2 separate regions of the Homo sapiens genome follow, and region 2 is linked to region 1. Evidence: fine-mapped expression QTL. Tissue or cell type: esophagus mucosa. Region 1 holds a variant in brackets; the other region holds the start of a gene. All regions are shown on one strand. Distances are between the middles of the regions.

Region 1 (16,164 bases):
CCTCCATTTGCCTTGTGATATCTTATTAACTTGTGAAGCATGTGATCTCTGTGACCCACACCCTATTTGTACACTCCCTCCCCTTTTGAAAATCAGTAATAATAACTTGCTGGTTTTACAGCTCAGGGGGCATCACAGAACCTGCTGACATGTGATGTCTCCCCCGGACACCCAGCTTTAAAATTTCTCTCTTTTGTACTCTGTCCCTTTATTTCTCAGGCCAGCTGACACTTAGGGAAAATAGAAAAGAACCTACGTGAAATATCGGGGGTGAATTTCGCCTGATATCTGGCTGAATTTCCCCCAATAGATGCCCACCTCCAGCCCTCATGCTCATTTATTCTCGTAGCAGCAGTTCTTCAAGGCCACTGAGACTCCACCCCACTGACGCTGCCATTTCCTCCATCCTCCTCCCTGTCAGCACTTAACCTCACTCATGGCTGAGCTCCCACGGAGTCTACACTCCAACCACTCTTTTGCAAACACTGAAAGTTCCATTGTCTCATGGTTTATCCTCCTCACTGAAAGTCCCTGTTGTGTTGACTGGAAACTCCTACTCATCCCGAAAATTCCCTAAAGAGCTTCTTGTCTTTATATACAGACCCTCTGCCCTATGGAGGGGATGCCACTCATGATTTCCCAACACAATCTTCTTGTTTTCCTCCCTTGCAATAAAAGTGAGCTTCCTACCACATTACTTGCAAAATATTGAAGAAATAGGAATCCTAGTTAGACAAACTCAATCACTCTACATTTTTGATAGCTTGATCTATATATATATATTTACAATTTTTAAAAAATTACAAATAATTTCAGTTCCCTTTACAAAGGCTAAAAACTCAATCATTTAAGGTTAGGTGGGCTGGGCACAGTGGCTAACGTCTGTAATCCCAGCACTTTGGGAGGCTGAGGTGGGCAGATCACCTGAGGTCAGAGGTTTGAGACTAGCCTGGCCAACATGTCAAAACCAAATCTCCAATAAAAACACAAAAAAAATTAGCCAGGGTGGTGGCACACATCTGTAGCCCCAACTACTCTGGAGGATGAAGAAGGAGAATCACCTGGGCAACAGAGGGAAACTCCATCTCAAACAAACAAAAAGGTTAAATGATAAAGCCACCATGAATCTTTCTAGTTATACAAAGGTGAAAAATAGACAGGTATAAACTAAGTGGACCCACTCTGTTGAGTCCAAGAGGAAAAAATGGAATTCTCCTCTGTCCACGACTTTGAGTAAAGACAGAAAGATACTTTGCAATGTGTCTTCTTTACCTGCCAACTTCTGATATAGAGGCTGGAAAAAGGTTATTATTTAGTAGCCAGTGGCATGGCCAAGGCTCAGTCAAGCTAAACTAGAGACTTCACAAATACATACAGCAGCCATGTGTTGGCACACCCAAGACTCTTCTGCTTTGTGCGACTCTTTTTTTTTTTTTTTTTTTGAGACGGAATCTCACTCTATTGCCCAAGTGCGATGGCACAATCTCAGCTCACTGCAATCTCCCCCTCCCAGGTTCAAGTGATTCTCCTGCTTCAGCCTCCCAAGTAGCTGGGATTAGAGGCACGCAACACCATGTCCGGCTAATTTTCATATTTTTAGTACAGACGGGGTTTCACCATGTTGGCCAGGCTGCTCTTGAACTCCTGACCTCATGATCTGCCTGCCTCGGCCTCCCAAAGTGCTGGGATTACAGGCGTGAGCCACTACACCCGGCACCAGCAACTCTTATATCAGAGTCCAGCTGTCTGGGGAAGACAAGTGATCTCCCGAAAAATGCAGGAGAAATGAAGACACCAACATTTGTTAAGTGTGTTGTGAGCCAAACTGTTTCTATGTTCTCTGATTCTCAAAAAAGAAAAAAATAGTCCTTCAAGATGAATAACGTTACATCCATTTGAAAGATTTGGAGACATACAAAAGTTGAGTAACTTGGTCAAGACCAACACAATGCTGCCTCTAGTAAACAGCAGAGAAGAATGTGATGGAGTGGCTCTGGTCCTCCACCCGCTGCTCACCTGCGCTCAGTTTTCCACCATGAACGGAGGCGTCACGTGTTTGCCATTCTCCAAGTCATTAAGCTAAAAGAAACTTCCGGGAAGTAAATTAGTCCAGGAATATCATCAAGGCCACTGCAGAGAGATCGACACTTTACACATCGCCTAATATATGTGTTTATGTAAATGGCAATAAACAAGCCTGATTTACATCAGTGTCTTCAATATAGTTTCCCTTGACTTTGCATAATGAATTTTAACATTCGACTTTAGGTAGGTGAAATTTAGATACAAAAGTCAAAGCAGTGGGGCAACGTATGCATTCAGAAAAGGGAAATACTGGCCAGGTGCGGTGGCTCATGCCTGTAATCCCAGCACTTTGGGAGGCCAAGGTGGGCGGATCGCCTGAGCTCAGGCATTCGAGACCAGCCTGGCCAACATGGTGAAACTCCGTCTCTACTAAAAATACAAAAATTAGCTGGGCGTGCTGGCACATGCCTGTAATCCCAGCTACTTGGAAGGTTGAGACAGGAGAATTGCTTGAACCCGGGAGGCGGAGGTTGCAGTGAGCCGAGACTGCAGTGAGCCGAGACTGCACCACTGCACTCCAGCCTGGGCAAGAAGAGCAAAACTCTGTCACTCACACACACACTCACACACACACAAACACAGAAAGAAAAGTAAGAAAAGAAAAGGGAAACATCAATAAATAAGCCCTTGCCAGACTCCTGGAAGATTTGAAAAAAAAAGGGAGCAAGAGTTCTTTAGATCTCAGAGAGGGGCAAATGAGAAAACAAGTCAGAGATAATGTCCATGGTGAGGCAACTGCAGGTTGAACTACATAGTTTCCGAGCTTTCTTCCCGCATAAGAACCTATGATTCGATTCTATCAGAAGGGAAAATAGTGAGTGAGAAGGGGGACCTTTGTAGTGAGACTTCAGTGAGACCCCCAATATTAATATTGTATCTCTTTCCTGGGCTCAAAAAGCCAAGCTGACTCCCTGGAACCTTCACTGCGAATAATGAGCAATGTTGGCGCTTTGCCCAGTGAACGTTCATCTTCCAGAACCCAAGGCCACCTCCTTTTTCACTTTTCATCAAAGTGAAAGTCAATTAATGTGACTGCTCTCTCCAAAAGGAGAGAAAGCATTGGCTCAGTTAGCTTCAAATTCAGCCGCATTTATCACATATTTTAAAAAGCCAGACTCTTACAGATGTCCTCATGACAATTCTGGATGAATATTCCCTAATTTTTATTTGTAAATCATCTCTATTGAGGTATAATTATACACAAAAAACATCCATTTTAAGTGTCCAGTTTCTTGTGTTTTGACAAATGTATACACCTGTGTAACCATCAACACAATCATGACGCAGAATATTTTTATCAACCTGTGAATTTCCCTCCTTCCCCAGCCCCAGTCAGCCACTGATATGCTTTTTGTAGTTATAAATATTTTACCTTTCATTTTCTATAAACAAAACCACATGTATGATCATATTTGTATCCACTTTGTTAAACTCAATATAGTGTTTTCAAGGTTCATCCATGTTATTGCAAGTATCAGTAGCTCTTCTTTTTTTTTTTTTTTTCTTTTTTGGTGAGATGGAGTCTTGCTGTCACCAGACTGGAGTGCAGTGGCACGACCTCGGCTCACTACAACCTCTGCCTCCTGGGCTCAAGCGATTCTCCTGCCTCAGCCTCCTGAGTAGCTGGGACTACAGGCACGTACCACCACACCCAGCTAATTTTTGTATTTTTAGTAGAGACGGGATTTCGCCATGTTGGCCAGGGTGGTCTCGATCTCTTGACCTCATGATCCACCCGCCTCAGCCTCCCAAAGTGCTGGATTGCAGGCATGAGCCACCCCGACTGGCCATCAGTAGTTCATTTCTTTATGTTGCTGAATAGTACTCCATTGTATGGATAACTATGGTTTATTTATACCACACTCACCTGTTGATGGGTGTTTAGGTTGTTTGTAGTTTGGGACTCTTATGAATTAACATAAAATGAACATTCATGAACAAGTCTTAGTGTGAACACAGGTTTTGACATATCTGGGATAAATAGCCAGGAGTGAACTTTCTCATTTGATGGTATGTAAATGTTTAACTTTATAGTAAACTCTTTTCCAAAGTAGTTGTGCCACTTTACACTGCTACCAGAAGTGGGTAAGAGTTCTAATTGCGGCCGGGCGTGGTGGCTCACGCCTGTAATCCCAGCACTTTGGGAGGCCGAGGTGGGTGGATCACGAGGTCAGGAGATAGAGACCATCCTGGCTAACACAGTGAAACCCCATCTCTACTAAAAATACAAAAAATTAGCCGGGCATGGTGGCGGGTGCCTGTAGGCCCAGCTACTCGGGAGGCTGAGGCAGGAGAATGGCGTGAACCCGGGAGGCGGAGCTTGCAGTGAGCCGAGATCACGCCACTGCACTCCAGCCGGGGCAACAGAGCGAGACTCCGTCTCAAAAAAAAAAAAAAAAAAAAAGAGTTCTAATTGTTCTACATCCTCATCAGCATTCTGTATTTAGTTTCCCATTTCAGCCACTATGGCAAGCGTGAAGCAGTATACCTTTGTGGTCCTAGTTTGCATTTTTCCCTGATGACTGATGATGTGAAGGATTTTCACTGGCCATGTACTTATCTTCCATTCAAGTCTTTTGTCCAGTTTTCCCTATTGTGTTCTTTTTATTAAAGAATTTAAGTTATTTAAATATCTTTAGACTGGGCATGGTGGCTCACACCTGTAATCCTGGCACTTTGGGAGGCTGAGGCAGGAGGATTGCTTGAGCCCAGAAGTTTGAGACCAGCCTGAGCAGCACAGTAAGACTCTGTCTCCATAAAAAATATAAATAAAAATAGAAATTTAGCCAAGCATAATGGTGTGCACTTGTAGTCCCTGCTACTCCAGAGGCTGAGGCACGAGGATCACTTGAGCCTAGGAGTTTGAGGCTACAGTGAGCCATGATGACACTACTGCACTCGAGCTTGGGTGACAGAATGAAAGAGACCCTGTCTCAAAAAAAAAAAAAAAAAAAAAGTTATACAAGTCCTTTGTCTAATACAGGTATGGTGAATATCCTCTCTCAGTCTGTGGCTTGCCTTTTTCTTTTCTTTTCTTTTTTTTTAGATGGAGTCTCACACTGTCGCCTGGGCTGGAGTGCAGTGGTGCAATGTTGACTCACTGCAACCTCTGCCTCCGAGGTTCAAGCAATTCTCCTGCCTCAGCCTCCCGAGTAGCTGGGATTACAGAGGCCTGCCACCACGTCCAGCTAATTTTTTGTATTTTTATTAGAGACAGGGTTTCATCATGTTTGCCAGGCTGGTCTCGAACTCCTGACCTCGTGATCCGCCTACCTCAGCCTCCCAAAGTGCTGGGATTACAGGTGTGAGCCACAGTGCCCAGCAGCCTTTTCCTTTTTTCCTTCGTTTTCTTTCTTTCTTTTTTTTTTCTTTTGAGACGGAGTCTCGTTCTGTCACCCAGGCTAGAATGCAGTGGCGTGATCTCGGCTCACTGCAACCTCCGTCCCCTGGGTTCAAGCAATTCTCCAGCTCCAGCCTCCCAAGTAGCTGAGATTACAGGTACCTGCAGTGGGGGAGAGCATGTTTTCCAGACCCTGTTTCTAAGGAAAAATAATTAAAAAAATTAAAGAGGTAGACTGAGGAAAAGGAGAGCCCTGTGCCCTTAAGGAGCATATATTTGGGTCAAAGACAGGAAATAAACACACAATGGATAGATGAACAGAGAGCTATAGAAAAAAAAAACAGATGGGAAAAATTTCAAGCACCAACAAATTCTCTGAAAAAGATAAAACAATGTAATATGGTAGAAAAGGACTTAAAAAAAAAGGGTTATCACCTCTTTATGAAAATGTGACCTAACTGAAAAGATCAAAATAGTGAGTACGAACCAAAGGATAAGGAGAACAATAGAAAGTGTGAAGGTCCTGAGGCAGAACTGAGCATGGTACATTTAGGATGCAGAAAGGAGGGGAGAAAATATGGTAAACAAGAGAAACACAGAGGCGATGTTGGAGAGGGTGCTGGCCCACCTCACAGCCCATGGAGAGGCCTTTAACTTTATTCTGAGAATAATGAGAAGCCACTGAAGGATGCAAGCCACGCAGACATGATCTGTTTTAGACTTTGGCCAGATCCCTTCTGGCTGCTCTGTGGGTACGAACCATGCTAAGGAGGCCACCTAGGCACTGCTGGGGCCTGCAGGTAAGGGAGTGATGGTGGAGGTCCGTGTTGTGGCAGTGGAGACACTGAGGAGTGTTCAGAGCCAATATGTGTTTACAAGGTAGAGCTATCAAGATGTACTGCCATGGCCAGGCATGGTGGCTCACGCCTGTAATCCCGGCTGCTTGGGAGGCGAAGGTGCGGAAGAATCACTTTAACCCGAGAAGCGGCGGTTGCAGTGAGCCGAGATGGCACCACTGCACTCCAGCCTGGGTGACAGAGCAAGACCCCATCTCAAAAAAATAAAAAATAAAATAAAATAAAAAATAACATAACAATATGTAAGAAAACAGAAACCAGGAAGGGGCAAGGAAGCAATCATGATGAATGAGAGGTCCAGCATCTCATTGTCAGGATATTGTGATCTGGTGAGTTTCAGTTCTTTGATCCTTTCTTGAGAGCCATGAAGGTCATTTCCTGAGGAAGGAACTCAGATAAAACCAATGTAAGGTTTAAGCTCTAAGACGAGAAAAGTGAATTTCTATGTTCATTCAAAAAATTTTTGGGCCGGGCGCTGTGACTCACGCCTGTAATCCCAGCACTCTGACAGGCCAAGGCGGGCGGATCACGAGGTCAAGAGATAAAGACCATCCTGGCCAACATGGTGAAACTGCGTCTCTACTAAAAATACAAAAATATTAGCCGGGCGTGGTGGCTGGCGCCTGTAGTCCTAGCTACTCAGGAGACTGAGGTAGGAGAATAACTTGAACCCAGGAGGGGAGCCGGAGGTTGCAGTAAGCCGAGATTGCCCCGCTACACTCCAACCTGGCCACACCCCAGCCTGGCGACAGAGCGAGACTCCGTCTCAAAAAAAAAAGAAAAGAAAAGAAAAGAAAAAAAAATATCTATGTGACTATTGGGTTGGTTTCATAAGCAGGTTGATATGTCAGTAAGAAGTCCTGCATAGAGATTTTCAGCTAGTGATGCTAACTGAGACTGTGGATGTGGAAGTAGAAGAGGTCACTGAGGATGAGAGTGTTTAGAGAGGATGTGAGAATCTGGGGAAGAGAAACAAGATTTTTACATAAGAAAACTATGGATATGTTATGGAGTAAAGTTCACAACTTTTTAGCATAAATTCTGACTTTGCATGATGTCCACTTACTATAATGTCTAATTGTTCCTGGAGGGAAGGCCTTGAGAGTAAGTTGTCCAGGTCCTTGGCGTTTAGAACAAAGAATTGGACAAAACAGCACAAACAAAGCAAAAAAGGAACGAAGCACAAAAACGAAGCAGCAAGAGCAGGGATTGATTGATTGATTGATTTTTTTGACACAGAGTCTCACTCTGTCGCCAGGCTGGAGGGCAGTGGCATGATCTCGGCTCACTGCAATCTCCACCTCCCAGGCTCAAGCGATTCTCCTGCCTCAGCCTCCTGAGTAGCTGGGACTACAGGCACGCCACCACACCCAGCTAATTTTTGTATTTTTAGTAGAGATGGGTTTTCACCATATTGACCAGGATGGTCTCATCTCCTGACCTCATAATTTGCCGGCCTCAGCTTCCCAAAGTGCTGGAATTACAGGGGTAAGACACCACGCCCGGCCAGCAGGGATTTATGAAAGTGAGAAAGCACTCTGCAGGGTGGGAGTGGGCCCAAGCAAGCGGCTCAAGGGCCCCATTACAAAGTTTTCTCGCTTTTAAGTACTCCTTTTGAGGTCCCTGTCGGTTACCCCTTATCTGGATGAAAATTTGGTCTGTGACTAATTAAACGGTAGGGTGAACTGGCCCCCTATGCAGATGAAGGGATGGCTGGTGCTTGACCCACTTTTTGTCTCAGAAATATAACTAACTACCTACTTTTTAAAAAAAAATTAAAAGTCATTCTTCGCATCATTTAAAGTGTTGGTGATGATGCATTTAAGAGAATCCACAATCCACCTAAAGGCTATTATTGCTGGCCTCTTAAACCTGTTTTGCAATCATGAAGTGCTGGTATACTTTTGGTCCTGCCTCAAGAATGTTGGTAAATACACTTGCCTTGCCACCTTTCCCACCTTCTTTCAGAACCATTTGTTTTTAGGAATTACAAAAACACAGAGAGGCCGGGCACAGTAGCTCACGCCTGCAATCATAGAACTTTAGGAAGCCAAGGTAGATGAATTGCTTGAGCCCAGGAATTTGAGAGCAGCCTGGGCAACATGGCAAAACCCCTGTCTCAGCAAAACACGGAAAAAAAAAATCAGCTACGCATGGTGGTGTGTGCCTATAGTCCCAGCAACTCGGGAGGCTGAGGTGGGAGGATTGCTTGAGCCCGGGAGGTTGAAGCTGCAGTGAGCTGTGACTGCAGGCTCAACTTCCAAGCTGAGACCAAGCACTCCTTGTTTTTTCATTTTTTAAGCATTTATTTATTTGAAGACAGGGTGTCATCCAAGATAACAGAGACCCTGTCTTCAAATAAATAAATATTTTAAAAATGAAAAAACAAGGAGTGCTTAGTCTCAGATTTTTTTCCAGCAAATGTTGCCAATACTCTACCATGCTTAGAGAATGACAGCCACATCATGACTGCCACCTGGCCCTCAGAGGTGGTAAGACAGCAGCGATAGTAGAATCTATCCCAAATTCAGTGATTTAAAACGTGAAACACATGTGCATCACAGCACGATGCAATCCAGTACTGAAGGTAGAGGGAAGGGGAAAAAACTAGGAAGAGTAGTACTGCCACAGAGGCCACGATACTGCTGCAATATGAAGTACTGCCACAGATGTCACAGTATTGCTGCAATATAAAGTACCGCCACAATAAGAAGTATTGCCACAGAGGCCACGGTACTGCTGCAATAACAAGTACCACCACAATATGAAGTATTGCCACAGAGGCCACAGTACTGCCACAATATAAAATACTGCCACAATATGAAGTATTGCCACAGAGGCCACGGTACTGCCGCAATATAAAATACTGCCACAATATGAAGTATTGCCACAGAGGCCACGGTACTGCTGCAATAAAAAGTACTGCCGCAATAAAAAGTACTGCCGCAGAGTCCACAGTACTGCTACAATGTGAAGTATTGCCACAGAGGCCATGCTACTGCCGCAATGTGAAGTACTGCTACAGAGGACACAGTACTGCCACAATATGAAGTACTGCCAAAGAGGCCACGGTACTTCCGCAATATGAAGTACTGCCACAATATGAAGTACTGCCACAGAAGCCACAGTCCTGCCACAATATGAAGTACTGCCACAGAGGCCATGGTACTGCTGCAATATGAAGTACTGCCACAATATGAAGTATTGCCACAGAAGCCACAATTCTGCCACAATATGAAGTACTGCCGCAGAGGCCACAGTACTGCTGCAATATGAAGTACTGCCACAGAGGCCACGGTACTGCCACAATATGAAGTACTGCCACAGAGGCCATGGTACTGCCGCAATATGAAGTACTGCCACAATATGAAGTACTGCCACAGAGGCCATGGTACTGCCACAATATGAAGTACTGCCACAATATGAAGTATTGCCACAGAAGCCACGGTTCTGCTGCAATATGAAGTACTGCCGCAGAGGCCACAGTACTGCTGCAATATGAAGTACTGCCACAGAGGCCACGGTACTGCCACAATATGAAGTACTGCTGCA[T/G]AGGCCACTGTACTGCTGCAATATGAAGTACTGCCACAATATGAAGTATTTTCACAGAAGCCACAGTTCTGCTGCAATATGAAGTACTGCCACAATATGAAGTATTGCCACAGAGGCCATGGTACTGCTGCAATATGAAGTACTGCCACAATATGAAGTATTGCCACAGAAGCCACAGTTCTGCTGCAATATGAAGTACTGCTGCAAAGGCCACAGTACTGCCACAATGTGAAGTCCTGCCACAGAGGCCACGGTACTGCCACAACGTGAAGTACTACCACAGAGGCCATGGTACTGCCACAATATGAAGTCCTGCCACAGAGGCCATGGTACTGCCACAATGTGAAGTCCTGCCACAGAGGCCATGGTACTGCCACAACGTGAAGTACTGCCACAGAGGCCACAGTACTGCCACACGTGAAGTCCTGCCACAGAGGCCACGGTACTGCCACAATGTGAAGTACTGCCACAGAGGCCACGGTACTGCCACAATGCGAAGTCCTGCCACAGAGGCCACAGTACTGCCACAACGTGAAGTACTGCCACAGAGGCCACGGTACTGCCACACGTGAAGTCCTGCCACAGAGGCCATGGTACTGCCACAATGTGAAGTCCTGCCACAGAGGCCACGGTACTGCCACAATGTGAAATCCTGCCACAGAGGCCACGGTACTGCCACAATGTGAAGTCCTGCCACAGAGGCCACTGTACTGCCACTATGTTAAGTACTGCCGCAGAGGCCACAGTACTGCTGCAATGGGAAGTACTGTCACAGAGCCCGCAGTACTGCTGCAATGTGAAGGAGTAACAGGGTTAAAAACATACTGCATTGATGTCCCTTTCAGTATTCTAGATTTTCAGTATCACCAAGGCTAGCCAGTCTTGCTGCTTTCAAAGCTATGTTGAAAGGCTATAAGTAGTTTTACTGTCATTTTGATGATCTGCATTTTCTAACTCTCTTAAATTGAATCTAGATTATGTGTGTAATATTTTTAAAGCCATAACGTGTGATTCGATGTTTTCTTGTTTCATCTAGGTTAATTTTACTATTTCTTGTACATGTCCTAACATTGATATCCAGGGAGGAGCATCTACGTACAGAATAACTACATTGGAGAAGTTGAAATAAGTGTTCGTGAGATGATTTTGCACAATGATCACCCACACTGTAACATGCACACTGCTGGCAAGCAACAGTTGGCCAGCAAGGGCTTCACAGGTAAAAGGTGCTAGTTACGTGGCTGTTTCCAGGAGAACTCTTGATGTTTTAAGGGCTTTGCAGTCCTTCCCATTTGAAAGCGGAGCAGCACCATCTAGTTGTGAAAACCAAGAGTGCAGGCTCCCTTTTTCCTTCTACTGTGGGTCTTGGCAACACTTCCCAGATTAAACAATTGGTTCTCAGACCTGCTTCCATTTTTATTAATAAGACAATTACATAGTCAAGTTTCTGTGGCTGTTAGTGATACATGTCTTATAAACAAACGCAAAAATGTCAAAACCTCAAAATTCTCTGTAAGTAGTGGCTGTACATCTCTAGTATCGCCTGTAAACAGTCATAACTTTTCAAACAACTTGTATAAGTTTTGGATTATGTTGGCAATATCAGACACATTTTGCCTAAAGATAGATGTGTTTTAATGATGAAAGTATTGTTTCTGTTCTAGAATGTCATCATCACAGAGTGTGAATCCTAGTCTATAATTCACTTGTCCTTATTAAATTATTTTACAAATTACATACTATGCAAACTCTATCACTAGACTTATTGTCTTCTTATTACCTGTCTCTCTCTCTTTTTTTTTTTTTTTTTTTTTTGAGATGGAGTTTCACTCTTGTTGCACAGGCTGGAGTGCAATGGCGTGATCCCGGCTCACTGCGACCTCCGCCTCCCAGGTTCAAGCGATTCTCCTGCCTCAGCCTCTCCAGTAGCTGGGAGTACAGGCGCCTGCCACCACGCCCAGCTAATTTTTTGTATATTTAGTAGAGACAGGGTTTCACCATGTTGGCCAGGCTGGTCTTGAACTCCTGACCTCAGGTGACCCACCCGCCTCGGCCTTCCAAACTTCTGGGATTACAGGCATGAGCTACCGCGTCTGGCCCTTATTACGTGTCTCTTAATTAATTTTTGGAAATTCTTAACTTGGTAGGCTTTATGAAGAAAATACATAAATTCTTTAAGATAGACATTTTCTGTCTATCTTATTTTCTGGTAGGTTAACAAGTGACATTTCTGAGTAATTTGTAAAATGTGACAGATAACCAATTCTATACGGCAGGGGTCCCCAAGCACAGACTGGTACCAGTTTGTGGCCTGTTAGGAACCGGGCCGCACAGCAGGAGGTGAGCTACGAGTGATCCAGCATTACTGCCTGAGCTCTGCCTCTCATTAGATCAGCAGCAGCATTACATTCTCACCCCTATTGTGAACTGCACATGTGCAGGAGAGAATCTAGCTAATGCCTGATGATCTGAAGTGGAACAGTTTCATCCTGAAACTATCCCCCTAGTCCCTGTCCATGGAAACGTTGTCTTCCACAAAACCGGTCCCTTGGTGCCAAAAAGGCTGGGTACCACTGCTATATGGGATATTAAGCTACTATAATATGTGAAGTTATACCACTTGCCAAGAATACTGGCTTTATTTTGATATTCATCTTCCCGATTCTTTTGGATTCTCAGCCACTATTTTGTAGTCTTTTATTCTTTTTCTATCTTGTTTCTGCAATATATAGCAGCAACAGTATAATGAGTTTCATCTAGAATTCTATTTGTTCAGAGTATCTCTTCACTGTTATTTCCCTATTTCCAGAGTATATTGGCAGGCAAGTGATATTCATGGACATGTCTTATGCCAGCAGGGTGCCACACTGCTCTGTTCACTTGCCACATTGAACCATAATTACTTTTTCCTCTATATTTCCACCTGGATTATGATCTGAAAGTTGTCAGACTGAGGATAGTGCTAAGGAAAGGTATTCAAACCTGGGATACAAAGCAAAAAGGTGAGTGGCACATCCTTTCCTTGTCATGTGGGAAAGAAGGCTTAAGGCAGAATTGTAAGCTGCCTGGCTGAGTGTTGAAAGCATGCCCCCAACATGCAATCACAGTCCCTTGACAAAGACTATGAGTATTTAATAAAAAATCTGGCCTGGCTGGGCGCGGTGGCTCATGCCTGTAATCCCAGCACTTTGGGAGGCTGAGGTGGGTGGATCACCTGAGATCAGAAGTTCAAGACCAGCATGACCAACATGGCAAAACCCCATCTCTACTAAAAATACAAAAATTAGCCAGCTGTGGTGGCCTGTGCCTGTAATCCCAACTACTCAGTAGGCTGAGGCAGGAGAATTACTTGAACCTGGGAGGTGGAGGCTGCGGTGAGCTGAGATCACACCATTGCATTCCAGCCTGGGCCACAGAGCGAGACTCCATCGCAAAAAAGAAAAGAAAATAAAAGAAAATATCTGTTTAATCTTCAGCTGACCACTAAGCAATATAGTTGTGACTTCAGTGGCAAAAGAAAAAAAATACAAGCTTTATGGATTTAGTTCAGAAAAGTCACTAAACAAACAACTGCAATAAGCAGTAACAACCGCAAACACTGGGGAGTGCCAGAAGGAGAGAAAAGAAAAGACAGAGAGAATATTTGAAGAAATAACAGCTGGAAACTTACCAAATTTGGTAAGCTCATTAATATCCACATCCAATAAGCTCAACAAATTCCAAGTCATATAAACTCAAACACATACATGCCTAAACATGTCATAACCAAACTGTCAAATGTCAAAATAAAGGCAGAATCTTGAAAACAGCAAGAAATGACTTATCACATACAATGAACGTCAATGAGATCAACACCTGATTTCTCATGTGGAACCTTGGAGGCCAGAAGGCAGTGGGATGATGTACTCAAAACCCTGAAAGAAAAAAAAAACTGTTAACCAAAAATTCTATACCTGGTAAAACTATTCTTCAAAAATGAAGATGAAATTATCAATACATCTGCTGATAGTTCAATTCACATTTAACACTCTGTAAAACTTTAGGGAAAACTTTTTTTTTTTTTTTTGAGACACAGTTTTGCTCTTGTTGCCCAGGCTAGAGTGCAATGGCACAATTTCGGCTCATTGCAACCTCCACCTCCCAGGTACAAGCAATTTTCCTGTCTCAGCCTCTCAAGCAGCTCCAATTACAGGCATGCGCCACCATGCCCAGCTGATATTTTTGTATTTAGTAGACATGGGGTTTCACCATGTTAGTCAGGCTGCTCACAAACTCCTGACCTCAGGTGATCCACCTACCTCGGCCTCCCAAAGTGCTGGGATTACAGGCATGGGCCACCACGCCCAGCCAGGAAAACTTCTATAAAACATAAAAATGTTCCAAAATAAGCTGACTATACTTGCTGAATTTTGATATTAAACAAAATATTTTGCCATCTTGGTAACCTAACATAGATGTTTCCATCAAATATTATGTGATGCACATCAAAGTTACTTCAAGTCATAGAGGAAGAAATTTAAAAGTTTACCCACCAATGACTTCCATAAAAGCTCCAAGTAGAGAAAAGAATTATGACAATGTGCTAATCTGGTCCAAGCATTTTTGCCTACAATCAGAACCAGAATTTTTGTTTTGTCCATTATGTTTCAGCACTATAATTTCACTAGTGATTCATTTGTATATTTATCTACTGACACAATTCTAGAAATTCTTTGTGAAATACATATACATTCTGTTAAAATTTTTATGTTTCCTGTAAAACACACAGAAGTGCATGCACACACATTGTTGTTTTTTATCAGTTTTACCTAACTGAAAAGCAAGTGAGTTGACAGTAACTTGATTTAATCATAATGTAGCTGATATGCTTTTTAAAAAATGCTTCAGCATCTATTGATTTAGTTAAGTCTATTTTCACAGAATAATAAAAATTTTTTTGTTTGTTTGTTTTGGAGACAGAGTCTTGCTGTTGCCAGGCTGGAGTGCAGTGGCGTGATCTCAGCTCATTGCAACCTCCACCTCCTGGGTTCAAGTGATTCTCCTGCCTCAGCCTCCCAAGTAGCTGGAACTACAGTGCACCACCATGCCTGGCTAATTTTTGTATTTTATTTTATTTTTATTTATTTATTTATTTTTGAGACAGAATCTTGCTCTGTCGCCCAGGCTGGAGTGCAGTGGCATGATCTTAGCTCACTGCAAGCTCCACCTCCTGGGTTCACACCTCCAGAGTCCCAGCCTCCAGAGTAGCTGGGACTAAAGGTGCCTGCCATCACAAAATACAAAAAATTGACTAATTTTTTGTATTTTTAATACAGACGGGGTTTCACCGTGTTAGTCAGGATGGTCTCGATCTCCTGACCTCGTGATCTGCCCGCCTCGGCCTCCCAGAGTGCTGGGATTACAGGCGTGAGCCACCGTGCCTGGCCTAATTTTTGTATTTTTAGTAGAGATGGTGTTTCACCATGTTGGTCAGGCTGGTCTCGAACTCCTGACTTCATGATCCACCTGTCTCGGCCTCCCAAAGTGCTGGAATTACAGGCATGAGCTACTGTGCCTGGCCCAGAATAGTAAATTTAAATGCAAAAGCTTAACTAAATTTTAACAACCGTTACCATTTATTTAGAATCTTTGAGCTAAATCTGTGGGACTCATTATTTCTAATTCTCCCATCAACGCAGCAGATGGGTATCATTATTATTCTCAAGTTACAGATGAAGAATACAAAGATTAAGTATGTTGCTGAAGCTCATGCTTAGTAAATTGTAGGGCTAAGGTCTGAAGATTGATCCCCATGTGAAGAAGAGTCATTCTCACCACACTGCGAAAACTTAAGGTTCTCACCCTGAAATCTGCTGCCTACATTTTTCAATCCCTTGAAACTGCTTTCAATAAAGCCCCCTGTGGCCTCCTTGTCACTAAGTTTAAGATGAACAATTTTTTTTTCTTTAACTTTTAAGTTCAGGGGTACAAGTGCAGGTTTGCCACATAGGTAAGCTTGTATCATGGGGGTTTGTTGTACAGACGATTTCATCAATCAGGTATTAACTTTAGTACCCATTAGTTGTTTTTCCTCATCTTCCCCCTCCTTCCACCCTTCACTCTCTGAAACGCCCCAGTATGTATTGTTCCCCTCTATGTGAGAGCTAAATGATGAACATTTTTCATCCTTATCTTCGTTGACCCTTCCACATCTGAAATTGTGACCTCCTCCCTCTCTGTGAAACAGAACCTTCTCTTGCCTTCCTCACCACCACCCTTCTGGTTTGCTTCCTACCTTCCTGGCTACTCCCTCTTACAATCCCTTGCCTATTATACCTCCTCCACCTCACT
Region 2 (16,164 bases), 30 kb after region 1:
CACTCTGAGAGGTGAGGACCATTAGGGCTAATAATGTGGCCCAGTCAGCTATTTTCCTGCCATAATTGTATTTCCTTCTTATTTTAAAAGAATTTCAGACTTATAGCAAAAGCACAAGAATAGTACAAAATGTACAAAACAGTACAAAAATGAATTCCCATAAGCCATTCACCCAGATCCAAATGTCACCATTGCTTCTTCATTATCATATTGCATATATGAATGTATGTCCGTGTGCATATATTTTTCCTTAAAATATTTGGGAGGAAGTTATAAGCATGATGTCACCTACCCCTAAATACCTCAGTGTGTATTATCCTAAAATGAGGCATTCTGGTAAGTAACCACACTATAATGATCAAAATCAGAGAACTGACGTTTATAAAACACTACTATTGAACATACAGACATTTTCCACATTTTGCTAATTGTCTCATTACTATTCCTCCTAGAAAATACTTTTGGCCGGGCGCAGTGGCTCATGCCTGTAATCCCAGCACTTGGGAGGCCGAGGCGGGTGGATCACGAGGTCAGGAGATTGAGACCATCCCGGCTAACAGGGTGAAACCCCATCTCTACTAAAAAATACAAAAAAATTAGCTGGGCGTGGTGGCAGGCGCCTGTAGTCCCAGCTACTCGGGAGGCTGAGGCAGGAGAATGGCGTGAACCCAGGAGACAGAGCTTGCAGTGAGCCGAGATCACACCACTGCACTCCAGCCCGTCGATAGAGCAAGACTCCATTTAAAAACAAAAAGAAAATACTTTTAATTTTTTGTTCTGTTTCATGATTGAGTCCAGAATCACACATTGCACTTAGTTGCTACGTCTCTTTAGTTTCCCTTAAGCTGCCACAGTTTCTCATATTTCTTTGTCTTTCATGACCTTGACGTTTTTGAAGGATACAGGCCAGTTATTTTGTAGAAAGCCCTTCTGTTTGGATTTGTGTGATGATTTCTCGGAATTCCATTTGGGTTCTGCATTCTTGGCAGGAACCCCCTGGAAGTAGAAGTGATGTGTGCTTCTCAGTGCTTCATATCATGAGGCAGCTGGTGACTCTTTGTCCCTTTACTGGTGATGTTTGGTTCCTTTGAAAGGTGCTGTCTGCTATGTTTCCCCATTGTGAAGTGACTGAGGCTTTTCTTCATAATTGATATAAATAATTGATTATACATTCTGTCTTTAATCTGTTTCCCTCCTGGCAGTTTACTATAGGCAATCAGGAGAAGCCATGCTGCACTTTGCTTAAAGATTTCTTCTGTCAAATACCCTCTTTCATTACTTGTTAAGTTCCTCCTTTCACAAAACATTAGGACCCAACACAATTCAGCTGAGGTCTTTGCCACTTTATAACAAGGATGGCCTTTCCTCCTGTTTCTAATAACATGCCCCTCATTTCTGATACCTCATCAGAATTGCCTTTATTGACCATATTTCTACCAACATTCTGAGTATAACCACTTAAGTAATGTCTTAGAAGATTGAGGCTTTTTCTACAGTTCTCTTCTTCTGAGCCCTTATGAGAATCGCCTTTTTATTTTTTGAGACGGAGTCTCGCTCTGTCACCTAGGCTGGAGTGCTGTGGCGCGATCTCGGCTCACTGCAAGCTCCACCTCCTGGATTCATGTCATTCTCCTGTCTCAGTCTCCCGAGTAGCTGGGACTACAGGCACCTGCCACCACGCCTGGCTAATTTTTTTGTATTTTTAGTAGAGATGGGGTTTCACCGTGTTAGCCAGGATGGTTTCGATCTCCTGACCTTGTGATCTGCCCGCCTCGGCCTCCCAAAGTGCTGGGATAACAGGTGTGAGCCACTGCGCTCGGCCTTATGAGAATCGCCTTCTATGACCCAACAATAGCAATACAAGCTTTTTCTAATGTGCACCTCAGTGTTCTTCCTGCTTCTGCTAATTATACAATTCCAAAGCCACTTCTACATTTTTAGGTATTGTTTTACAGCAGCACCCCACTTCTTGCTATCAATTTCCATCTAAGTCCATACAAGCTGCTAAAACAAAACATGTTAGTTTGAGAAATTTATAAACAACAGACATTATTTCTCACAACTGTAGAGGCTAGGAAGTCCAACAGCAAAGCACCAGCAGATTCAGTGTCTGGTGAAGGCCTGTTCTTCACAGATGGTGCCTTCTATGTGACCTTATAAGGGAAAAGGGTCAAGTCTGTGTCCTCACATGGCAGAAGGGACAAGGACTACTTCTCTCAACTTCTTGTTAAGGGCAAAAATCACATTCATTAGGACAGAGCCCTCATTACTTAATCACTTCCCACCTCTTACTACTACTGAGACCCTACCTCTTAATACTATTGCACTGGTGGTTAGGTTTCAACATCTGAATTTGTGGGGGACACCAACATGCAGACTACAGCAGTTGGTCTAGTAAGAATCTGCCTACCCTTGCTGTCTCTTTTTTGTAATTTTCCATCCAATGACCTCTCACTCTGTTCAATGGCCAGAAATCCCCAGTTGTCTTTGCTGAATTCAGAGTTGAGCCCAATCTCTCTTCCCTATCTCAACAGTCTTTAATAAAGTCTTCCTTCAGTGGGACTCATGCTATCTTCATTGGGTCTGGTTGTTTGGAAAGTTAAGTCTCTTATCAGAGTAACGGTTTTTCTTTAAAATTTTAGAGTTATCATTTTGGCTATTGAATAACTTATAGTGACCTGGGACTCTATTTTCTGATATCCAGTGTTTTTAAACCTTTGATATTTGACAGACCTCTCAAGATCAAATTCTAAGTTAAAAAAAAAATTAAGTTGCCTAAAGTCCAAAAAGACATATTCAGCTTATTTAAAGTACTAAAATCATGCGGTAAACATTGTCAAATATAGTGTTTAATTTTCTTTGGGTTACATTTATATAAATGTGTTATTAGTATGTATTACAAAATTGTATAAGATTATAAGAGTCCTATAATTTTGATATGCCTCAGTATATGTTATCAGTAATAATTATAATTGTTATGTTAAATTATTGTGTGTCACAGAGGTAACAAATTTCCTTGTCAATTTTTTTTTTCTTTTTTTTTTTTTTGAGATAGAATCTTGCTCTGTCACCCAGGCTGGAGTGCAGTGGCGTGATCTCGGCTCACTGCAAGCTCCACCTCCTGAGTTCACACCATTTTCCTGCCTCAGCCTCCCAAGTAGCTGGGACTACAGGCACCTGCCACCATGCCCGACTAATTTTTTTGTATTTTTAGTACAGATGGGTTTTCACTGGGTTAGCCAGGATGGTCTTGATCTCCTGACCTCGTGACCCGCCTGCCTCAGTCTCCCAAAGTGCTGGGATTTCAGGCGTTAGCCACTGCACGCAGCCCAATTGTGTTTTTAACTGTGGCTGCCCTAAAATATTTTTGTCATCCAAGGCAATTGTCTCATTTTGATCCACTTTGGAAGGTGGTTTTATAATCAGCTATAAAACTTTGACAGGTACTCTTGAATGCAAGTTTCTGATAACTTTGGAGATGATGATGACACAAGTGTAAAGGGGAAAAACTTTCAGGACTCTCATGGAGAGCTGAAATGTTCATGGATATGAAGCAGAACAAAAGTTAACTGAATGGACTGAACTAATAAAAGACTGAAGTAACCTTTTTTTTTTTTTTTTTACTTTTTTGCTTAAAATGTTGCTGATCCTTTTTCTTATCCAGAACTAAGAAAACTTATCTTTTGAGCTATTTACAGCCTTTAACAATTGGTAAAATATACTCCTGTGAACAAAATTTGGAGCATATTTCTTTCTACCTGACTTCTCCAGAATTTGGGAACTATTTGTGAGTATTCTCAATTTATGGTAGTATAGACATTTGCATAAGCATGATAAGAATCTGTTTTCTTTTGTAACAGGACACGATTGTAGAAACTGGTTATTTTACCAAGGCTTTGACTGGAATGGCATGCTTTCTTTAAGGAATCAAAGTTGATTTACAGAGCCAATAAAAGCCTCTTGGGAAATCTGGCCTCATATTTTCTTTACACAGTCCCTGTATAAGGTTTCTGACCTGTGATAAGTAAAGAATGGCACTTTCTAACAGGCCGAGGAGCCCCAAGTTATCTTGGCACCTCAAGAGAAGAATAATTTACCTAACTCATAGGTATTTGACGGTATAAACCCATGGCAGGGCTCAGCTTTTAAAAAGTCTTATCTGAGATTCCTTATAGAACAGAGCTCCATCAAAGCCAATTTAAAAATCCTATATGAAAAATAATTATTTTTGCTGTGCTTTATGCAAATAACCAGGCCAAGTACAATAAAAGTTTATTTTGCAAACCAATCAGTCCTATCATTATTTGTTTTTAATAAAAATGATGATTGGGGGGCCGGGTGCGGTAGCTCACGCCTGTAATCCCAGCACTTTGGGAGGCCGAGGCAGGTGGAACACGATGTCAGCAGATCGAGACCATCCTGGCTAAAACGGTGAAACCCCATCTCTACTAAAAATACAAAAAATTAACCGGGCGTGGTGGCGGGCGCCTGTAGTCCCAGCTACTCGGGAGGCTGAGGCAGGAGAATGGTGTGAACCCGGGAGGCAGAGCTTGCAGTGAGCCGAGATTGCGCCACTGCACTCCAGCCTGGTCAACAGAGTGAGACTCTGTCTCAAAAAAAAAAAAAAAGAAAAGAAAAAAATGAGGATTGGAAAGAGAAAAATTATACTTAAAAAAGACTTATAGGCTGGGCGTGGTGGCCCATGCCCATAATCCCAGCACTTTGGGAGGCCACGGCAGTTGGATCACGAGGTCAAGAGATTGATACCATCCTGGCCAACATGGAGAACTCCCATCTCTACTAAAAATACAAAAATTAGCTGGGCGTGGTGGTGTGCATGCACCTGTAGTCCCAGCTACTTGGGAGACTGAGGCAGGAGAGTTGCTTAAACCCGCGAGGTGGAGGTTGCAGTGAGCCCAGATCTTGCCACTACACTTCAGCCTGGCAACAGAGTGACACTCCATCTAAAAAAAAACAAAAGTTACAGTACACCTTTTGTTAGCTGTTCTTGAATTTTTCCTTCAGTTTGGACTAAATCCTAAATTCTCTGTGGGCTAAAAGTCCCCAAACTAATGCTTTCAAATCTTTACTTTTGAAACTGGGAATTGCACTCCTCACCCTAGTATTCATTATCTACCTGATAGTCACTGTTCCCTCAAATGCAGTACTAAAACTATAGATGTTAATACTAATGCCTTTGCCATGCGAGCCTTGGAACCCCAGCCAGGCCTGCATGAGTACGCTCACACAGTTGCAAAGCAGTTCCATTTCTCTCACTTTGGGGTTAACGCCTACCCCTACTATGCCTCAGATCGGCAGGAAGAAGTTAGAGCAGCCTTCGCCCTTTTTCAATTTTCATTAGCCAACACCTTAAGATTAAGGTGTTATAAAATCCAAAAGGAGTCTGGGAGCGGTGGCTTATGGTTATAATCTCAACATTTTGGGAGGCCAAGGCAGGTGGATCACTTGAGGTCAGGAGTTCGAGACCAGCCTGGCCAACATGGTGAAACCCCATCTCTACTAAAAATACAACAAATTAGCCAGGCGTGGTGGTGCATGCCTGTAGTCCCAGGTACTCGGGAGGCTGAGGCAGGAGAATTGCTTGAACCCGGGAGGTGGAGGTTGCGGTAAGCCAAAATCGCACCAAAAACAAACAAACAAAAAAACCAAAGGGAGGGATTGAAACAGCCACTGCAAAATTGTAACTGGGACAGTGAAGGAGATCTGACCTAACCAACTCCATCTTGCTTCTAACCTCCAAGCTGTCCTTGTTCTTTCCCAGGCATAGGCTGAACTAACTTTGGGAGGAACTTAGCTTAGTGTTTATAGTTTACAACCAAGAGAATAACAGTCCTTTCCAAAAACAAACCTCCTTCTTGCCTAGGGACTAGACTGCCTTTGTAGGACTCATAAATTAGCCACAAGATTAGAAACTATGGTTTAGGAGTCATGCAGTTGGAGGCTAGAAGATTCTGACCCTCCCAAAACTGCTCCTAAGATCAGCGCTTGAGATACATTGCAGACCCTGCACTTGATGGATCAGCTGGCCCCACCCAGATGGATAATCGGGCTCATCTGATCTTGTGGCCACCACCCAGTAACTGACTCAGCGCAAGAAGACTGCTTTGACTCCCTGTGATTTCATTTCCAACCTGACCAATCAGCACTCCTGACTCACTGGCTGCCCCCGGCCCAGCAAGTTATCCTTCAAAACTCTGATCCCTGGATGCTCCTTGGGGAGACTGATTTGAGTAATAATAAATCTCCTGTCTTAAATTAAAAAAAAAAAAAGTATTTACTGTTTCAACAACTTTAAGAACATTTTTTTTTCATTAATACCACCTAGAAATCAGTGACTGTGTTTTATTAGAATAATTTCTGGTGCTTTATCATGTCTTTGATTATTTAAGACAACTAAATCTTCTCACCTTAAAAAAAAAGCTATTTTTTTCTTACAATCATAGAATCTCCTATGGCTATTTTTATTGTCAGTTTAATTAAATGGATAATTAAGTGTTGTTTCACAGTGACCTGTGATCCTATTTAATCAAGTGTTCAACGCTTTTGGCATTTTTGACAACTTCCCCAAATGAAATTCTAAATGAAATTTTTTTAACTTTGAACTGACTTTGAGATTTTCCAAAGGGTCCCTAGAAGATCTCAAAATATTTGTTCTCTCATTTTGTAAAAAGAGAGATGTTAAACTAATTAGGTTTATTCAATATGTTAAATTGCACGGGAGGCACTCACTGTCAAGAAAAGATACTTAACCTTCCTTAGGTGGTATTTGCATGGATAAATGTTATTATTTCAGAAACTGAATAAAGTTCCTAGAAATTTGTCAATGCCCTTGATAACCATAATATGTCCTGGTATAATATTATCAGTCATGATTACAGTTATGATTTTAAATGTATGCCACAAAAAAACTGATTTTCCTTGTTAACAGAATTAAAATAAACCTTCATCCGATCTTTACCATGGCCATTTTTGCCTTTTTGTCATTCGCAGTTATTATTTTACTCTGGTACTTTCCTGAAAGCTCTAGCGATCAGTTATTAGCCAGAATACTTCATCTTCAACAAAAAGGACTGTTTCTCTAAGATCCATGGAAAGGCCTGTAACAGTACTGTGGGGTACAGGCTTCTGATGACATTGCTTAAATAACTTTAATCTCATACCACTGCCCTGAGGAAGGATTTCCAGAACTCTAGTTGAAAAGCTGATGGGTTCATGACACTGCTAATCCAAGATCAAGCAAGGCCAGAATTAATCATATGGAACTGAGGTGACTGATAAACAATGGTTATGATTTTTTAAATGGCCTTTGTTTGAAACATTGCTGGTTCTTGAATGTTCTATGTCCTGAATATAAGGGAAGAAACATAGATTAGAACAAGGAAACAAAATAAAAACAATGATTAATGTTCAGAGCAGAATATAAACCCAGTTTTTTTAAGTCCAGAGGGCAAGCCAGTCATGAGGTTTTCTAGATGTGGGGTTCCATCTTTAGTGAGGATGGTAGTGGTATGTTGGAGTCATGGTTATTTTCTGGAGCAGAGCCTGGAAGATGCAAGTGTTCTGGAGAAATAATTGAAAACCCCAAACTGTTGTGATACATCCTTTGATTTCTCTTTTCTCTTAAGCTATCCACAAATGATAACAATTTAATAAACTTTCATAAGTAGAAATGAAAAATTTATCTTTTTCTCCCTGCTTCCTCTAAAATTTGTCAATTCTTATTGAATATTCCTATTCTCATGGCAATATAGTTGTTTGCATAAATTCAAGAAGAATCTGTTCTCCTTAAAAAAGGACATTATTTGGAAAAATTGATTATGTTACCAAGACTTTGACTAGAAGGTCATATTTGAGACTGATGTGCACAGAATTAGACGTGACCAGACATTTTTAAGAAACTAAGGTTGACTTGATGGAGCCAATGCTTACAAAGCTCTGCTGAAATAATTGACCTGGTGCCTTACCTGACTTACAGGGTTCCAGGCTTACAGGTGAGTAAGATGGGTTACTTACTCGCAGGCCCAGGGCCTTAAGATGTTTTGGAAACCTCAAGAAGAGCAACAGTTTTAGGGTCTGAATGGATCCCCACATTTCTCTATCTGAAACTACAGATAGTATAGGTGTAGTCTTTTTTTTTTTTTTTTTTTTTTTTTTTTGAGATGGAGTCTCACTCTGTCCCCCAGGCTGGAATGCAGTGGTGCAATCTCGGTTCACTGCAAACTCTGCCGCCCAGGTTCATGCCATTCTCCTGCCTCAGCCTCCCGAGTAGCTGGGACTACAGGCACCCGCCACTACGCCCGGCTAATTTTTTTGTATTTTTAGTAAAGACGGGGTTTCACCGGGTTAGGCAGGATGGTCTTGAACTCCTGACCTTGTGATCCACCCGCCTCAGCCTCCCAAAGTGCTGGGATTACAGGCGTGACCCACCACGCCTGGCTGTGTAGGTGTAGTCTTAAAACTCTAATCTGAGATTCCTTATAAAAGTTCCAGCCAAGCAAACCTAAAAAGGCTCCTGTGGTCAATTATCATTCTTGCTGGACTTATGTAAATGATCAGGCCAAATTTAATGAGACAAGACTTATTTTGTAAACAAGAGTAATCTTACTTTGTTTATCTTTGATCTCAGTGGTAGTAATTATACAGAGAAATTTTATGTTTCAATGGCAAACTATAACCCAGTTGTGTGAGTTATCAGACTCTAGTCTTGTTCATTGTCTTTGAGCAATTTTTTTACCTCTTTAAAAGCTGGATCCTGCCGGTCAGGCACGGTGGCTCACGCCCGTAATCCCAGCACTCTGGGAGGCCGAGGCCGGGGAATCACCTGAGGTCGGGAGTTCGAGACCAGCCATGACCAACATGGAGAAACCCCATCTCTACTACAAATACAAAATTAGCCCACAATCCCAGCTACTTGGGAGGCTGAGGCAGGAGAATCGCTTGAATCTGGGAGGTGGAGGTTGCAGTGAGCCGAGATTGCACCACTGCATTCCAGCCTGGGCAACAAGAGTGATACTCAGTCTCAAAAACAAACAAACAAAACAAAAAACAAAACAAAACCTGGATCCTGCCATCTTACATATTTTGTCAGTAATCAGTATTTCCAATTTTCCTCCCACTCTACTGACTTGACGTCACTGAGAACTAAAACTGATTCCTTCTCAAAGCCTTGCAAGCTGAAGCTGGATGGCTAGACAGAAACTTCAAAAGACTTATCACAACACGTGGGTCTTTCAAATATTTCCCCAGAACACCTGCATCTTCCAGACTGTGCTCTAGGAAATAACCATGATGGCAACACTACCTACCACTACCATCCTCACTAAAGATAGCTGGAGCCCAACATCTAGAAAATTTCATAACTGGCTTACCCTCTAGACTGGGTTTATCGTCTGCTCTGAACATTAATCATTGTTTTTGTTTCCTTGTTCTAATCTATGTTTTTCCCCCTTTTACAGATCTCTCATCTTACAATTTCTAACTCAAATCATCTCCCCACAGCAATCAACTTAGCTTCTTTTTTTTGTTAATGAAATTTCTAGGGAAGTTTCAGATGGAGAAATGTGTGGACCATTCAGGCCCTAAAAGTTGGTATAAAGATTATTTTACTGTGAAAATATTTGATCTAAGAAAGACGCATCAAGAAATTTTATTTGAACTTCCCTTATTTCACTAAAGCAGAGCCCCCAGAAAATACAGCTGCCATTGGCCTCCCTCTGAGGAAGTTTCCTGTAAATTCCACTACTGTAGAGACAGATTGCCCATTCTCATAAGCATCCAAAAGCCCAAAAGAACCTTCCACAACTTCCTACTGAAACTCCAAAATCTCCCAACACATTTTGTTAAGTGGATCTATAAACCTTTATTTCTATTTAGTGAGTTACTCTAAACCTTGTCTTTTCTCCTGTTAACCTGTTGTTATCAGTTAATTTGCAGGTCTTCAAACACAGGACCGACATTGAATGAGGAAAAGCTTTCCTTCCAACATAGACAATACGACTACCTGTAGAACATCATTTTGAATGTACAAAAAATTATTAAGCAGATTTAGCAAGTTTTCAGGACATGAGATCAATTGCAGATATCAACTATATTTCCATATATTAGCAACAATCAGAAACAAATGAAAAAATCACCATTTACGATATTATCAAAAAACACAAGACCTTGCACAGTGGCTCATGCCTGTAATCCCTACACTTTGGGAAGCTGAGGTGGGAGGATTGCTTGAGCCCAGGAGTTCAAGACCAGCCTGGGCAACATAGTGGGACTCCGCCTCTACAAAGAATTTAAAAAATGAATTGGGCATGGTCATGTGTACTTGTAGTCCCAGCTACTCAGGAGGTTGAGGTGGGAGGATAGCTTGATCCCAGGAGGGTCGAGGCTTCAAGATGAGCCATGATCACACCATTGCACTTCAGCCTGGGAGACAGAGTGAGATCCTGTCTCAAAAAAAAAAAAAAAAAAAAAAGAAGAAAAAAAGAAAAACAAAATAAAAAAACAAATACTTAGGTTAAAATCTAACAACAGTTATATTTTTTTTTTTTGAGATGGAGTCTCGCTCTGTTGCCCCAGGTGGAGTGCAGTGGCAAGATCTCTGCTCACTGCAAGCTCTGTCTCCCGGGTTCATGCCATTCTCCTGCCTCAGCCTTCCAAGTAGCTGGGGCTACAGGCGCATGCCACCACGCCCGGCTAATTTTTTGTATTTTTAGTAGAGATGGGGTTTCACTGTGTTAGCCAGGATGGTCTCAATCTCCTGACCTTGTGATCGGCCCGCCTTGGCCTCCCAAAGTGGCAGGCGTGAGCCACTGCGTCTGGCCAGAGAAATTTTAAAAGACCTAAATGTTAATGGGTCAGAAGATTCAATATGGTTAAAATGTCAATTCTCCCCAAATTCATCTGTAGAGTCAACACAATCTCAATCAAAATCCCAGCAGTATTTTTTTGTGCAAAATGAGAAGTCGACTCTAAGATTTAAAAGGAAATCTGAAGAATCTAGAAGATACAAAATAACCTTGAAAAATAAAGTTGTAGGACATAAACTATCTGATTTCATCACTTATTTATATAGCTACAATAATCAAAACAGCATGGTGCTGGCAGCAAAAAGACAAATAGCTCAATGGAACACAATAGGAAGCCTAAAATGAAACACATACATATGCAACACAGATTTTGATGTAAGCACAAAGGAAATGCAGTAGAGACAAAAATAACTTTTTAATAAATGATGCTGGAACATTTGGATATGTATACATGCAAAAAAATGAACTTTGGTCCCTATCCCATACCGTATACAAAAATTAATTAAAAGCAGATCTTATCCTTTGAGTCCAGTAGGTTGAGGCTGCAGTGAGCTGTGATTACACCACTGCATTCCAGCCTGGGCAACGGAGTGAGAAACTGCCTGGAGAAAAAAAAAAAAAAAAGTAGAACCTAGACCTGATATACAACCTAAAGCAGTAATATTTCTAGAAGAAATCCTAGGAGAAAATATTTGTGATCGTGGAGATGAAGAATCTATCAAATACTAAACTTTTTTTACCACCTTGACCAAAAGTAATTGGTTTATATACTTCATCATATCATTTAATTCAAAATCTACAGAGATCAATGTCACTTTCTCAGTAAAAGTACGTGAGTCTTCAATGATGCCCTGAACTCACACTCCCAAGTAAACCATAACACCATATTTCCAGAGTAGAGTTTATTAGAACAATAACTGGTGATAATGATAAATATTGATCAAAGACTGAGCCTAGGAAGTGGGTTTTTTGAGGCTGCATATACTCAAGGCAATTCTTCAGAACCACAGAGGGCTCATTGGATCCTATTAAAAGCTGAGAGTGAATGAATAAACAGATAAAACAGAGACCTGAGTAGACGGTAGTCGATATTCTTTTACATGTATTCTACCTCTAGATTCCATAGAAAGAACTAAAAGTACATGAATTTCACTACCAACATCTCCATCAGTTACCAGCTGTATCACCTTGGATCAGTCAGGTAACCTCCCGCGAATCTGGTTGCTTCCGGGGCAGGGGATCCGCGGGCTGCAGGTTTGAGCCTGGTTGCCGGCAGGGTGGAGCAGCTGGAGGGCCAAGCCTTTGAGCTCCAGGGGGGGTGGCCGGGACAGTGGGTAGTGCCAGCCGATCGGCGTCCTGGGGATTGCCTGAATGTGAGGTCTGGGTTCACCCCGCGGTGACCTGAGTCCTGGGATGCCCCTACAGGGATTTGCTGCCTCAGGGATCCGAAGTCTCTTTCATTCCCTTACTGGGGATTTGAGGTCTGGAGGTACTCCTGCGGGGGTCTGAGATCTCGGGGTCACCCTGTGGGGGTCTGAAGCCTCGGGGTCCCCGCGTGGGGTCTGAGGTATCAGAGTCCCCTCCGTTGGGTCTGAGGTCTCGGGGTCCCCCATCCCCGGGATCGGAGGTCCGGCTCCCCGGAGCAGGCAGGGCGGTGCGTCTGGCCCTGAACAGTAACGTGGCGCGCCAGCCCCAGGTGGTGTCGGGCTAGGGGGGCATAACGGTGCCGAAAGTCCGCACAAAGCCGTCCGCTGGGGTCCCGCCGCGTCCGCGAGGGAATGACTGTGCCCCCTCCCCTTCCTGATCCTCAGCTCAGGTGAGCCCAGATGAGGCGCCGGGTAGCTTCTAAGTCACTAATGGAAATAGAAGGCTAATTCAGGGGTTAGGGGCCGTCGTCCTCCTTACTCCCAGGAGAAGAGAAAAACCCACGGCCCAGCAGCCAGAGGCGCGGCGAGGCGGAATCGGGCCCCCTCCCCGGGGGCTCAGCTCCCTCCAGCCTCCCGCCTCACCTACAGAGAAATCCCGGAAACGCGGATTCAGCGGAGCGCGGTGACGGCGGCGCGCTCACCCCGCGCATGCCCAGTGCCCGCGCGCGCCGCCAGGCTCGCAAGCACCGCGTAGGCCAGCTGGCCGGATCCCGCCGTCTGTCATGGCGGCCCCCATCCTGAAAGGTGAGGTACTTCCTGCTGCCTGCTCCAGCAGCGGGAGTTTGAGGACCGGCACCCCTCGTCGCGGGCGCACTCGGGGGATCCCGTGGGAGGAGCCCCGCTCGCCCCTCCCTCGCTGCCTGTCTCCCCCAGACCCCCTGCCGCCTCCTTCCTCCCCCGCTGCCTGTCCCACCAAAACCCCCTGCTCCTGCTCTCTCCCCCGCTGCCTGTCCCCCCAAAACCCCCGGCTGCCTGCTTCGTCTCCCGTGCTCCCTGTCCCCCCAAACCCCCGACTGCCTGCTTCCTCCCCCGTACTGCTTGTGCCCCAACCCCCGTGCTGCTAGTTCCCCTCAATCCCCCGCTGCCTGCTCCCTCCCCCATGCTGCCTGTCCCCCAAATCCCGCCTTTCCCCCTACCTGCTTTCACCCCTGCTGCCTTAGTCCCTGGATCTGGGGCTCACTGGCAGGCAGAGTCCTGCCCTCCGGAAGTTGGTGTGGGGCCCTCCTGGGTCTGGTCCTGTTCGACCCCCTCTGAGGCCCACCTGGAGGAGCGGCAGTTGAGTTTCTATGCTAATTGTTCCAATAATAGGAGCCGCCTTTTACTGCGGAGTCTTTGTGTGCCAGGCGCTGTGCTTAGGCTAGTATGGTATTGTCTGATTTTTTTAACCGCTCTATCAACTCTCTTATATCATTTTACAGGCAGAAACTAAGGCATCGGACGTTTAGGTGACTCTCCCTGTGTGTGGCTAGTCAGTGCTGACAGGGCCTTAGACCGGAGCTGCTGTCCTAACCAGTATATGATACCGCACGCAGTCCCACCCTCTGTGCACCTGGAAGAGCCCAGGAGAGGGGAATAGCGGACACGTGTCTTGTAGAGTTTGACCGTGAGAAAAAAGGGGCCTGTATTGTGGGGCCTGGAGTCATAAAACCTCATAGCCAAAAGTAAAGACTAGAGGCTTTATACAAAGTCTGTAATCAGATGTGGCTATTTTTCTAATGTTAGTATTTTGTTAAATTAACCTGGTTTTCTTTTAGCGTTACCCCCAATCATTGACCAACGGCACACCTGGAAAATGCTTTTAAACATCAGGTTTTGAGAAGAGGATATCCACTAGAACAGGGGTCCACTCACTATGCCCCCCAGGCCATATCTAGCCTGCTGCCTGTTTTTGTAAGGGTCTACGAGCTAAGAATGTCTTTTACATTTTTAAGTGATTTTAAAAAAAGGTCAAATGAAAAATTATATCACATTCACATTTCCTTCTCCATAAATAAAGTTTTATTGGAACACAGGCCGGCCCGTTAATATATTACCTATGGTTATGTTTGTGCCACAACCGTGAAGTTGAGTAGTTGTGGCAAATACTGTATTGGCCACAAAGCCTGAAATATTTACCATCTGTCTCTTTACAGAAAATAGGTTTCTGCACTGGAAAAATTAAGCGTAAGAATTTGGGGAAAGCAACTAATTTTACAAATGTAAACTCTCATGTATTGTATGGGTACAGTTGTTCTTTGCTTAAAATTTTAATAAATTCCACTGAAGCTATTTTGAAAAGGCTTTCAGTAGAAATTTATTTATGAGACAGAGTCTTACTCTCTTGCCCAGGCTGGAGCGCAGTGATGTGATCACATAATAGCTCAAGCAATTCTGCTTCAGCCTCCTGAGTAACTTGGGACTACAGGCACTACCACGCCCGGTTATTTTTATTTTTATTTTTTAATTTATTATTTTTTTGTAGAGCCAGGGTCTCACTATGTTGCCTAGGCTGGTCTTGAATTCCTAGCCTCAAGCAATCCTCCCGCCTCCACCTTGCAAAATGCTGGGATTACAGGCATGAGCTACTTTGTTCAGCCAGTAGAAGAAACTTCATTTACTTTTCTTATTTTTGAGGCAAGGTCTTTCTCTGCTGCCCAGGCTGGAGTGCAATGGTGCGATCATAACTCAGCTTCTACCTCCTGGGCTCTAGGGATTCTCCCACCTCAGCTTCTCCACCCTACCCACCCCCATTTCCCACCCAGTAGCTGGGACTACAGCCACTCGCCACCATTCCTGGCTAATTAAAAACAAAATTTTTTTTAGAGACAGGGTTTCACTATGTTGCCCAGGCTGGTCTCAAACTTCTGTGCCCAAGTGATCCCACTGCCTTGGCCTTCCAGAGTGCTGCAATTACAGCATGAGCCACCACACCTGGCCAGTAGAGTAAATTTTTGTTTTACTTTTTTCTTTTTTTTTTTTTGAAACGGGTCTCGCCCTGTCACCCAGGCTGGAGTGCAATGGCGCAATCTCGGCTCACTGCAACCTCTGCCTCCCGGGTTCAAGTGATTCTCCTGCCTCAGCCTCCCAGTAGCTGGGATTACAGGTGCCCGCCACCATGCTCGGCTAATTTTTTGTATCTTTTAGTAGAGATGGTTTTTCACCATGTTGGCCCGGCTGGTCTCAAACCCCTGACTTCGTGGATCCACCCACTTCCGCCTCCCACAGTGCTGGGATTACAGGCGTGAGCCACTGTGCCGGCCTCGGTTTACTCTTAAATGTAAATAGAACAAAATCTATTGGGCAGGGGATGCTGGAATTTCAAATGTATGTTTCATGTTCATATCTTGTTTTCAGATGTAGTGGCCTATGTTGAAGTGTGGTCATCCAATGGAACAGAAAATTATTCAAAGACATTTACAACACAGCTTGTGGATATGGGGGCAAAGGTAAGACACTTATTTTGCTGTTGATTCATATGACAGTCTTCTGATTGGTAAAAAGTTACATTTGCATTTTCTTATTTTGGGAGTTTTTACTTAGAATCTGGACGAAGCAATGGGTAAGCGGTGGGAGAAAAAAGAGCCAAAGTGTGAAGAATTTAGAACAGTAGGACTTTCAGAACTCAATGCCTGTGGGCATTGAGTGAGGAGGAGGAACCTAGGATGAAATGCTGGATTCTTACACTGGTTACTTGAATGCATAGTGCTATTAAGCAAAGTGAGGAATACAGGAAAAGGAACAGGTTTCTAAGGGAAAAATTGTAAATTTGGGCATACTGAAAAATATCTGTTAGATATTTGGATATACAAGTCTGGAGCTTGGAGTGTTCAAGGCTAGAGATGATGATCTAGGGGGTCAGGACCATAGGGGTCATGTGAAGTCACAGGTGTGGACATCGTCCCATGTCAGGCATGGTTAGGATGAAGAGTGGTGAC

What was found. PIP is the estimated chance that this variant, and not a neighbour inherited with it, causes the effect.
Region 2: it holds the start of MCPH1-DT, and the variant in region 1 is fine-mapped to the expression of MCPH1-DT in esophagus mucosa (GTEx, PIP above 0.99). The same link has a PIP of 0.9 or more in tibial artery.

The regions. Positions count from the first base shown.
Region 1 is chr8:6,363,560-6,379,723 of GRCh38, forward strand. No RefSeq gene overlaps it. Among named protein-coding and RNA genes, the nearest start is that of MCPH1-DT, 35 kb to the right of the region's middle. The variant T/G (reference allele first, on the strand shown) is at 9,835.
Region 2 is chr8:6,393,696-6,409,859 of GRCh38, forward strand. It overlaps MCPH1-DT (MCPH1 divergent transcript), which reads right to left and starts at 12,853. Exons shown (of 2, transcript NR_040040.1): 1 at 12,011-12,853; 2 at 9,861-11,425. MCPH1 (microcephalin 1) reads left to right here and starts at 12,932. Exons shown (of 14, transcript NM_024596.5): 1 at 12,932-12,994; 2 at 15,584-15,675. The coding sequence starts at 12,973. RefSeq lists silencers at 6,079-6,279, 12,674-12,753, 13,014-13,193.